Regions from separate parts of the Homo sapiens genome. Here region 2 is linked to region 1. The links come from fine-mapping of genetic effects on gene expression. A gene starts in region 1. The other region holds a variant in brackets. All regions are shown on one strand. Distances are from middle to middle.

Region 1 (5,379 bases):
TATAGTTACCTGTGCCTTTGATCTTCCAACATGTTTCTTTTGAAACAAAAACTGTCTGTTGAGGTTGCTTACATCAATAGTATCCAGATCAATCTACAAATGCATAAACCCCAGATAAATGACAAACGTTTACGTATGTTTGAGCTGTATCACTACTCTCAGCACCTGTAATCCAGAACTTTTGATATCTGCTACATTAGTGGAGAAAGCGTTTTTCGAATCGCCATACCAAAATTGTTAAACTGATAAAGAATAATTTAATGCATGTAAGAATCTAGATTTAATGTCAGAGATAAACTTCTCAAAAATACTTTGAAAGAATGGTATATTTTGTTTGTTTAATCATCCTGGAAAATATTTCAGGAAACTCCCTGGATGCCATAAAAATATGTGAATTCATTAAAACTATATGTGCTGTCGAGGTAAACACTAACTGAAAATATATTAACATATTTCTCTACACCGGGAGTGGTGGCTCATACCTGTAATCCCAACACTTTGGGAGGACAAAGTGAGAGAATCGCTTGAGCCCAGACCTTCAAGACCAGCCTAAGCAAAATAGTGAGACCCTGGTGGCTACAAGAAATAGAAAAAATAAAATTAGGTGGCACATGCCTGTAGTCACAGCTACTCGGGAGGCTGAGGTGGAGGATCACTGGAGCCTGGGAGGCGGAGGTTGCAGTGAGCCGAGATCGGGCCACTGCACTCTAGCCAGGGTGACAGGGCCAGACCCTGTCTCAAAAAATACTAAAGTATTTCTCTTTCAATCGAATTACTCTTTCAAGTACAAAATATTAAATTTAACTATGCCCTGTTCTTTTTCTTTGTTTTTTGAGACAGGGTCTCCCTCTGTTGCCCAGGCTGGAGTGCAGTGGTGCAAACACAGCTCACTGCAGCCTCGACCTCCCAGGCTCAAGCGATCCTCCTGACACAGCCTCCCGGGTAGCTGGGACCACAGGCGCACACCACCACGCCCCGCTAATTTTCTTTTTTTGTAGAGACGGGGTTTCTCTATGTTGCCCAGGTTCTGTTCTTTTTCTTAAATGATACATGGCAAACGTTTATTGAATTTTTGCTGCCTCCCTTAATTCAAGCCTTCATCCATACACAATTTCATTTACTATTAACCTGAGAACTGTGAAAGGAAACTTTTACACATGGTTAAAAAAGTATCATGTTTTAAGTTTTATCTAATTTTTGCTTAAATATATAATACATAAAGGAAAGAAACAATGACTCAGTCGGCCACCCGTACTTTTTTGTTCATTCCATGTTTCCACTAGCCCTTAAGACACTTTAAACTCACACCGAAGGGCCAGTAACATCTCCAATCTCTAAAAAGTTTGCATTAGTAGAAATAACGATTCAAAATAGCACTGGCTTGTCAACGTACACCAATGCAAAAGGCACAGTCCTAACGTCTTTAATGAAACAAGCGAGTGTACCGTCTACTGTGAGAGCAATGACAGTCACGCAGCCTGCGGGAGCCCTGCCACTCGCTCCGTGACCCAGGGTAAGTTACTCAACCCCATTGCGTCTCCCTTTCCTCATCTGTTAAAAATAAAGCAGGGTGGAAATAGCGTTTGCACTCCTCGGGTGGTATGAAGATGGTGCGCGTTCCGTGTGTAAACCCGCTCGTGACCAGCGCTCGGGACGCGTTGGTCGCTATCATTGCCATCCTCCGCCCCGCGTCGTTACTTCGGAGTTACGACAGGGACCTCAAAATTAAAGTCACAACATCCGCGAGGGACTCAATCCTCTCCCGCATCTCCTAACAGCCGGGAATTTGTTTTGAAGGGAGGATAAGAGGCGGCTTCACGCCCACGAAGCGCCACACATTGGCGCTGCCGGGGAGGCGGGGGCCCGCGGCCTCCTCGGCGTCCGGAGCCGGCCCAGCGAGCGGAGGCCCGCCCCGTGCCCAAAGAACAGTCTCCTCCCGCGGGGGGGGCACAACCCGAGCCTCTCAGCCTGCCCCCGCTCCGCAACTCCGGTCCCGGGCTCCGGGCCCTGAGCCTCAGAGCCCCTGGAGCCCCGGAACCCCCGAATCCCAGCCCCCGCACCACAGCCCGCCATTCACGCGCGCGCGCCCGGCCCTCACCAGGTCGATGTGGGAGAAACCGGTGAGCACGAGATTCTTGAGGAGCTCGCAGCCGATGCCGCCCGCCCCCACCACCAGCACCCGGCCCCCGGCCACCGCCTCAGCCAGCTCCCGGGGCAGCCCCCGCGACAGTGCCATGGCGGGACAACCACGAGCCGCGGCGGAGGCGGAGGCGGGAGAACCGAGCCGCGGCCGGAAGCGGGTGGGGGAAGGGCGGCCTGGTTTCCGCTCCTGCGCACTACAGCCTCCGGCAGACACAGGCAGGGCACATCGCGCCGGGGTGTGCTGCAGCCCGCGGGGACCGGCAGGCTCTTGCAAAGGGCTGGCGACCTCCAGCTGAGACCGGCGGTGTTATTCCCACACCAGCATAGGCCCGCCATCAGACCTAAAAAGTCTAAGGGTCGCCTTCTAGCCTGGGGTTTCAACTCCCAGCCAAGACTTCCTTACAGGTTAGAAAACTGATGTCCCTATACGTAAAGAGCTCTTACAAATTAACAAGTGTCACCCCCAAAAAAATATAGGCAAAGGATGTGAACAGGAAACTCACAAAAAATTGGACAATATGATCAATAAGCGTATTAAAATGTAAACCATAAAAGAATCGCTTGAACCCTGGAGGTGGAGGTTGCAGTGAACCAAGATCGCACCACTTCACTCCAGGCTGGGTAACAGAGCAAGACTCCGTCTCAAAAAAGAAAAAAATGTAAACCATGCAAAATGGTAAGATTTTCACCTGCCGGGCGCGGTGGCTTACGCCTGTAATCCCAGCACTTTGGGAGGCCGAGGCGGGTGGATCACGAGGTCAGGAGTTCTGAAACCAGCCTGACTAACATGGTGAAACCCCCATCTCTACTAAAAATACAAAAATTAGCCGGGCGTGGTGGCGTGCGCCTGTAATCCCAGCTACTCGGGAGGCTGAGGCAGGAGAATCGTTTGAACCCAGGAGGCAGAGGTTGCAGTGAGCCGAGATCGCGCCACTGCACTCCAGCCTGGGCAACAGACTCCGTCTCAAAAAAACAAACAAACAAACAAACAAAAAAAAACACCGAAACAGCTGGGGGTGGTGGCACAAGCCTGTAGCCCCAGCTACTCAGGAGGCTGAGGCAGGAGAATTGCTTGAACCCAGGAGGCGGAGGTTGCACCACTGCACTCCAGCCTGAGCAATACAGCGAGACTCTGTCTCAAAAAAAAAAAAAAGTTTTTCACCTACTAAACTGGTAGAAAGAAAAAATAAGTAACACTTATCAAGGGATTGGGAAACAAGCACTCCAACACACTCCAGGTAAAGATTCCAAAGCAAAGCTTCTCTAGAGGGCGTGGTGGCTTGCACCTGTAGTCCCAGCTACTCAGGAGGCTGAGGCAGGAGGATCACTTAAGCCTGAGAGGTCGAGGCTGCAGTGAGCTATGCCCTTACCACTGCACTCCAGCCTGAGAGACAGAGCAAGACCCTGTCTCGAAAAAAAAGAAAAAAAAACCCTAAAATTGTGCACAACTTTTGACTCATTCATTCCAATTCTAGGAAACTGTCCTGTAGCAGTTATCATTGATTTAAAATATATATAAATTTAGTTACAGGGATGGCCATCATGGGAATAAAAATTGGAAAATACAAGTGGCTAAAAATTGTATAAAGCTTTTGATGTATATTTAAAAAATAGAGCAATTATAAATTATGTTGTGGGAAAAATATTAATGGGAAAATGCTCCAAATATAATGTTAAATGCAAGAAACAAGCCCACCCCATGATCACCTAGGCCTCATTATCCTCATCTACGTAGGCAGAGCATGTCTGAACATGGCTGGGAGTGTTTTTATACTGCTGTTATGGGGCTGAAGGGAAGGGGTTGATCATGTTAAAAATAAAGAAAGGGGAAGACTGGAAGGCAGCTGGATAAAGGGACAGTCTCCAGAACGGAGTAAAGACCCCTTCCTGGGATACTGCAGGAGCAGAAGATGGGAGTGGGTGAGGGCGGGGACCTGGGCTGATGAACATGGGCAGGTCTAAACAGCCAGGGTCACAGAGCAAAAACCTCCAGCAGCTAGAGCAGGTTCAGTGGCTTGATCAGGTGCCAGAAACAGCATAGGAAGCACTGGAGTGCACGTGTCAGAGGTGTACACAAGAGGCTGACCACTGCTCTTGGCTCTTTCGCTGCTCTCCTCCCCCCTAGAATGCCCACCAGAACGGCTGTGCAGACAACACCAGCCCTCTGGACTAGAGAGGAGCTACCTTCCTAGCTGCCACTGTGACAGCTGGCCCTGGACCCTGGAAGGGCAGACCAACCCACAGTCAGGAGGTCCTGGCCCGGCCCCGGCCCCGGCACCAGCACCCAAAGGCAAAAAGGCAACTCAGAAAAACAGAGGTTAATAACTTGTGAGTTAAAATAAGGTACATACAAACATATTTGGATGTAAACATTTGTTTTAATTTATATTAATAAAAGGAAATGCTCTACTTAAACAATAATTCATCTGGGTCTTCTTGTATAATACAAAATTCTTCCATGGGAGTCTGATGATTTGGGGGCCAGCAACTCTTCTCACATGTGTAAACTAGAATTGTTCCAAATTCCACAGAAAGACCTGAAAAATACCACATATTCAGGCTTCCAGCAAAAAGAGTTATGAGACTGATGTTACTAAAAGGAATGATTTTACCTTATAAGCTGAAAAAGTAATTAGGTAAAGCAAAAACAGTGCTTACTGCTTTCAGCTATAACAGAATCACAGTCTATCCTATAATAAGTGAATATTGATAACAAAAAAGCAAAATTAATTTAAAGTGGCAGGAAAATATACTTTAAAAATAAACAAAAATTTCAGCAAGTGTTCATTATAACTGTCTAGCTATCTGATGTTGAAAATCTATATTAATCTACATGGTTCATGTGATATACATAGCTTTTGGCTAGGTGCGGTGGCTCACAACTGTGATCCCTGCACTTTGGGAGGCCGACGGGGAAGGACAGCTTGAGCCCAGCCTAGGCAACATAGTGAGACACCTGTCTCTACAAAAAACAAAACAAACAAACAAACAAACAAAATATATATATATCTCATATAGCCTGGGCAACACAGTGAGACTTTACTAAAAAAAAAAAAATTCACTGGGTGTAACGGTGCACACCTGTAGTCCCAGCTACTCAGAGGAGACTAAGGCAGAAGGATCACTTGAGCCCAGGAGATAAAGGCTGCAATAAGCTATGATTGCACCACCGTACTCTGGCCCGGGTGATAGAGCGAGACCCTGTCTTAAAAAAAAAAAAAAAAAGAAGAGAGAAAT
Region 2 (5,379 bases), 450 kb before region 1:
TGTGCCTTATTTAGCAATAAAAACGTTTTTAAAATAGAGAGATATACTTCAGATATGAATAGATCTTTGTGGAAACCCAACCATAACACTGTTTTCATGTGAAAGGGGCTTGTGAATTTAAAAAAACCAGCAGCAGCTCCAGTGCAACAGTATATTGAGACACACACACAGCCATACACATTCATATAAAAAAGGTCTATTGATAAGTCTTTAACGTCTGAAGCCCTTTTCTTTATTTTATTTTTGCCTGGTGGTAGGCATAAATAACCCAGTAAGGATATCTACCCAAAGGGATATAAATCATTCTACCATAAAGACACATGCACACATGTATTCATTGCAGCACTCCACAGTAGTAAAGAAATGGAATCAACCTAAATGTCCATCGATGGCAGACTGGATAAATAAAATGTGATACATATGATGGAAAATATGGGATACCACGCAGTCATCAAAAAAGAATAAGATTGTGTCCTTTATGGGAACATGGATGGAGCTGGAGGCCATTATCCTTAGCAAACTAATGCAGGAACAGAAAACCAAATACCGCATGCTCTTACTTATAAGTGGTAGCTAAATGATGAGAACACACGGACACAAAGAGGGGAATAACACACACTGGAGCCTATTGGAAGGTGGAGGGTGGCAGGAGGGAGAGGATTAGAAAAAGTAACAATTGGGTACTAGGCTTGGTACCTGGGTGACAAAATAATCTGTACAACAGACCCACGTGACACGAGTTTACGTATGTAACAAACCTGCATATGTACCCATGAACTTAAAATAAAAGTAAAAAAAAAATTACCTAGGAATTTTCATCTCATTTTTGTTTTGACATATGCTGTGTATTCCCTGAGAACCCTAAAGATGAAAGTATTAACTCGTAAAAAAAGGAAAACTTGCTGATCTGATAAAGAAGTCTCCACAAATACAAATGAATTCTATCTATAATCACTTTCAGGAGGAAACATAATTAGAAAAATGAGGAAAACAAATTGTAAAAATTCTGGCAAGCTGGCATGGAGCCCAGGGGAAAGAGAGACATGCTCTCTCCAGAAGCCGTCAGAGTTGTGTATCTTCTCAAAGCTCTTGATTGTTCAGGACCTGTGAGGTTTAGTGTAAGGCAAAGAGTTTCCTCAGTACGCTGTGTCACAGTTCTGTGGAGACCAGGGGAAGCGCAAAGCACAAAATCCTATTGAATTAATTTGGTTTTTAAATTTTTTTTTTTTTTTTTTTTTTGAGAGGGAGTCTTGCTCTGTCGCCTAGGCTGGAGTGCAGTGGCGCGATCTCGGCTCACTGCAAGCTCCGCCTCCCGGGTTCAAGCCATTCTCCTGCCTCAGCCTCCCGAGTAGCTGGGACTACAGGCAGGTGCTCGCCACCACACCCGGCCATTTTTTTGTATTTTTAGTAGAGACGGGGTTTCACCGTGTCAGCCAGGATGGTTTCGATCTCCTGACCTTGTGATCCGCCCGCCTCGGCCTCCCAAAGTGCTGGGATTACAGGCGTGAGTCGCCGCGCCCGGCCTATTTGGTTTAAATTGTTAACTGTCATTTGTTCGTGTGCACCAAACCCAAGGACTGCCTTTTTCTCTTTCTTGTTCAGTATCTTACATACATTGTTATAATATGTCACTAGCAGAAGATTAAAACAGAAGAAAATATATCAGGACATTCTCACAGATGAACATTTGATTAGAATGGAATTCTAGTTAAATAAACTTGGTAATTAACCTCAAACAGAAAATGCCTGGTGTCTGCATAAAAATAGATTACTGATTTTTTTCCCTCCCACTGTCTTGCCGGTGGTGGTTTTTTCTCCCCGCCCCCTTTTTCTTTTCAAACTGTAAAAGTAACACAAGCTCAATTAAAACTGAGAAAATACAAAAAGGTTGAAAAAAAAGGAAAACAACAATTTTCCAGAATCCCACTACCATAGATGATCTCACAGTTTCATCTGTTTTACCTTTGTCAATACATATGTATTCTAATTTTTAAATTAAAATAAATATTAAGTTTCATACTTTGTCTTTTACATTTTATGTTTATTTTACATTAGCATGTTTCACATCTTTAAATGGTCTTCAAAAGCATTATTTTCAATGACTACAAATACGTCCCACCATTCTTATTATTTCACTTTTAAGTAGGTTTCTTTTAATTTTGCTATGTTTATTTTCTTAGGATTTATTTATGAGATAATTTTTGAAATGATGTATTTATGAAATAACTATTTAATGATAAG[G/A]TAAAAACTTTCTTTTCTTTTTTCTTTTTTCTTTCTTTTTTTTTTTTTTTTGAGACGGAGTCTTGCTCTGTCCCCCAGGCGGGAGTGCAGTGGGGCGATCTCGGCTCACTGCAAGCTCCGCCTCCCGGGTTCACGCCATTCTCCTGCTTCAGCCTCCCGAGTAGCTGGGACTACAGGCGCCCGCCACCGTGCCCAGCTTTTTTTTTTTTTTTTTTTTTTTTTTGTATTTTTAGTAGAGATGGGGTTTCGCCATATTAGCCAGGATAGTCTCAATCTCCTGACCTCATGATCCGCCCGTCTTGGCCTCCCAAAGTGCTGGGATTACAGGCGTGAGCCACCATGTCCAGCCAAAACTTTCTTAAAGTTTAATATTCCTTTAAATGACGACATCTATTTTCATCCCCACAAGAGTATGTGAGTGTGGAGATATATGTACTCTTCTTTATGAAATTATGTGCTCAGAATATATTTTTATTTTTCAAATTTGACAGGTAAAAACTGTGTCACTTGTTTCTTTAATATTTATTATACCTTATTAGGGTTGCCAAATAATAGATATTTTCATCTACTCCTGATTTCCTCATCATTCTGGATGCCTCCCTTTCTAATCCACGCAACCTTTGAATTCTTCCTCATGTAAATCCCAGACACTAAGTTTTCTTGACTGATTTCAAGCATTTATTCTTTTGGATAAACTTGATTAATTTCCTTTGAAACAAAGATGAGCTGGGAAGAGTTAACATCCCTACAAGGTGGACTCACGCCATACAAGAGCGCAATTTAGTTCTTCATCTGTTCAAATTTCATGTTGTACTTCTCAGTAAAATGCTGTACCTTTCAGTATAATATGTACATCTAATGTTAAGTCTAGCAGAGTGCCCAGCACTTGGTAGATGTAAAATCAAGCTTTAAAATGAGTAAACAAATGAAGCACAATGCCTGGGTTTGTCCAGCAGGTCAGACGAGGGCCGGAACTCAAGCCTCAGGCCTCTTAGCCCCAAGTCCCAAGTTTAACTCTCTGCATGAGACCTAATTATGCCAGCAAGACTCAGACAATAGAGACACTACTTATTTTCCCACTTTTTTGTGGGCCATACTCACTGGAGCCTGGCACTGCTCTACTCTCTGTAAAAGTGCAGGTGAAACCTGGTTTCTGTCTTTCAGTCACACACAACTCACCTAACCTAGTCTCTACACCTTAGCCCCATGACTGGCCTGCTGGGAGATAAAGTGGCCCTGTTCGATGCATTTGGAAGTAGGCTCAGTGGCATCTTGTAATTTGCCCCAGGTGGCAGATCCTACAAGTACCTGACACCAACACTCCCTCTACGTTAGCTTCTCCCTCCACTCTCTTTCTTCCTTCCTCCTGGGCCAAGACTAGGTGGGAGTCCTGGTCCCAGTAGTAGAATGCAGAAGCAACCGAAGCCTCTATGCTCAGCATCTATGGAGAGCGTCTTTGCAGAAATTTCAGCCTCCTCAGGAAAATAGCAGAAAATCACAGACGCTACGAAGAGATTAAATTAAAAGGGCTTGTGATGAGCTCATGCAGGTCATTTCTAGAGTCACTTTTCAACCAGGCCTTCCAGGGCCTGCAGACTCTGCAGCTCCAATAAAGGCAGAGCCAGAGAAAGGCTTTCTATGGCTGTTGATGTCATTGTAACCTCCCAAGGCTGATGAATCCTGGGGTGACATGTATGTTATTTAGCTGGGTCCTCATTTTACAAATGAGGACAGAGCTTCAGAAAGATAAAACGGCTTACCTATGATCCTACAGCTAGTCAGCGGCAGGGCCTAGACCTATCCTGGCTCTGCCTAATTCCAGTCCACATGTTCTCAATGGCCTCACGTGTCACAACCCCTCACCATGTCCCAAGATCTCCTGCTGGGCCTCCCACGCGCCACACACAGGACACCGTCCCTGGGCTCTGAGAGTTGAGTTGCAGTTGTTTTACTGGAATCAGCCTGGTGAAAACTAAATCAGAAAGTCTGACTAGGAGGACCAAAGGGCTCCTGCAAAAGTCCTGGGCCCACAGCAGGGTTCCCATTCCCCAGGATCACCCACTCCTCATCTGCAAGGATGAAATCTTCTCCTTGGTCATTCCGTGCAGACCTCAGTGAGAACCAGCCCAGTGTGGAGACGGGGCTAATGTCAGACAGATTAGGATGAGGACGGCTCCCTCATGACCCAGTAACAGGAGAATGAGCGCCTGCCCGGGCTGGGGCAGGAAGGAGATGCGAGGTGCTTGAGGGCATGCTGGGGCTGAACCCAGAGAGGGGCAGCATCTGAGTTTGGGTTTCTGTGAAGAAACCTCCTCGTCCTGTGAATTGTCTGTCAGCTCCGTTTTAGAAACATTAAAATCGTTATGTTTTCCCAGCCCCGACTGTCACCTTTGCATCCTGGTCACATCCTTCTCCCACCTGTACTAACTTCCCATGCAAGACTCACCCAAAATGTGGAGCTAAAAGTCAGTGGGGAGGCAAGGACAGGTGTACACCACAACAGGCCGGTCAGAGAAAACTGGCTTTGGCCTTAGTTTGAGTCCTGGAGGAAAGTATGGGGGATGTGGGCCTGACCAGGGCCCCCTGAACATCTTACCAGCTGCATCCTCCGCATCAGGCCTCAAGGCCAGGTGGATGCTATCTTTTGGCCTCTGAGCCCATCACTGCCAGGGAAGTTCCAGGACTTGCAGCCATATTGGTTGACTCCAGGGCTGGTCATGCTCCATTCTACCTACCACAATTCAGTTGTCAAATTCTGCCAGCAACTTTCTGCTCACTCTTAAAGGAACAAATTCTTGGGAGTTCTTGATTCCTAGGGGAGCCAGTCTCATCCCTTCTGGCAGTCTCGCCTTTTTCCATTGGCGAACATGACCCTAAGTGGGCTTGAGCTTTAGAGGCTGTCCAGAAATGCCAGCGAGCGGAGTGTGTGTGACTCACGACCTGCACCAGAGGCTCTGAGGGACCCCCTGTGATCAGCTGCCCTCCCCCGCCTCACTTCCCAGAGGTCACTACGGGACCTGAGGGCCTACAGACCAGAAACTTGGCTCTGTTGAAACTCTCTCAAGGGTGGAACTTTACCTTCTACCCTAGGAGAGGAGTGTGATGGCACAAACAAGATAGAATAATGGCTTCCAGCTT

What was found. PIP is the estimated chance that this variant, and not a neighbour inherited with it, causes the effect. A credible set is the group of variants that fine-mapping cannot tell apart.
Region 2: its variant is the best candidate, but not a certain one, in a credible set for the expression of UBA2 in whole blood (INTERVAL, PIP 0.85).

What each region holds. Positions count from the first base shown.
Region 1 is chr19:34,425,290-34,430,668 of GRCh38, reverse strand. It overlaps UBA2 (ubiquitin like modifier activating enzyme 2), which reads right to left and starts at 2,288. Exons shown (of 17, transcript NM_005499.3): 1 at 2,099-2,288; 2 at 10-93. The coding sequence starts at 2,236. PDCD2L (programmed cell death 2 like) reads right to left here. Exons shown (of 7, transcript NM_032346.2): 7 at 4,501-4,679. The coding sequence ends at 4,549. LOC124904695 (a long non-coding RNA gene) reads left to right here and starts at 2,305. Exons shown (of 2, transcript XR_007067232.1): 1 at 2,305-2,547; 2 at 4,268-4,563. RefSeq lists silencers at 1,791-1,950, 2,021-2,130, 2,161-2,400.
Region 2 is chr19:34,873,284-34,878,662 of GRCh38, reverse strand. No RefSeq gene overlaps it. Among named protein-coding and RNA genes, the nearest start is that of LINC03049, 15 kb to the right of the region's middle. The variant G/A (reference allele first, on the strand shown) is at 2,242.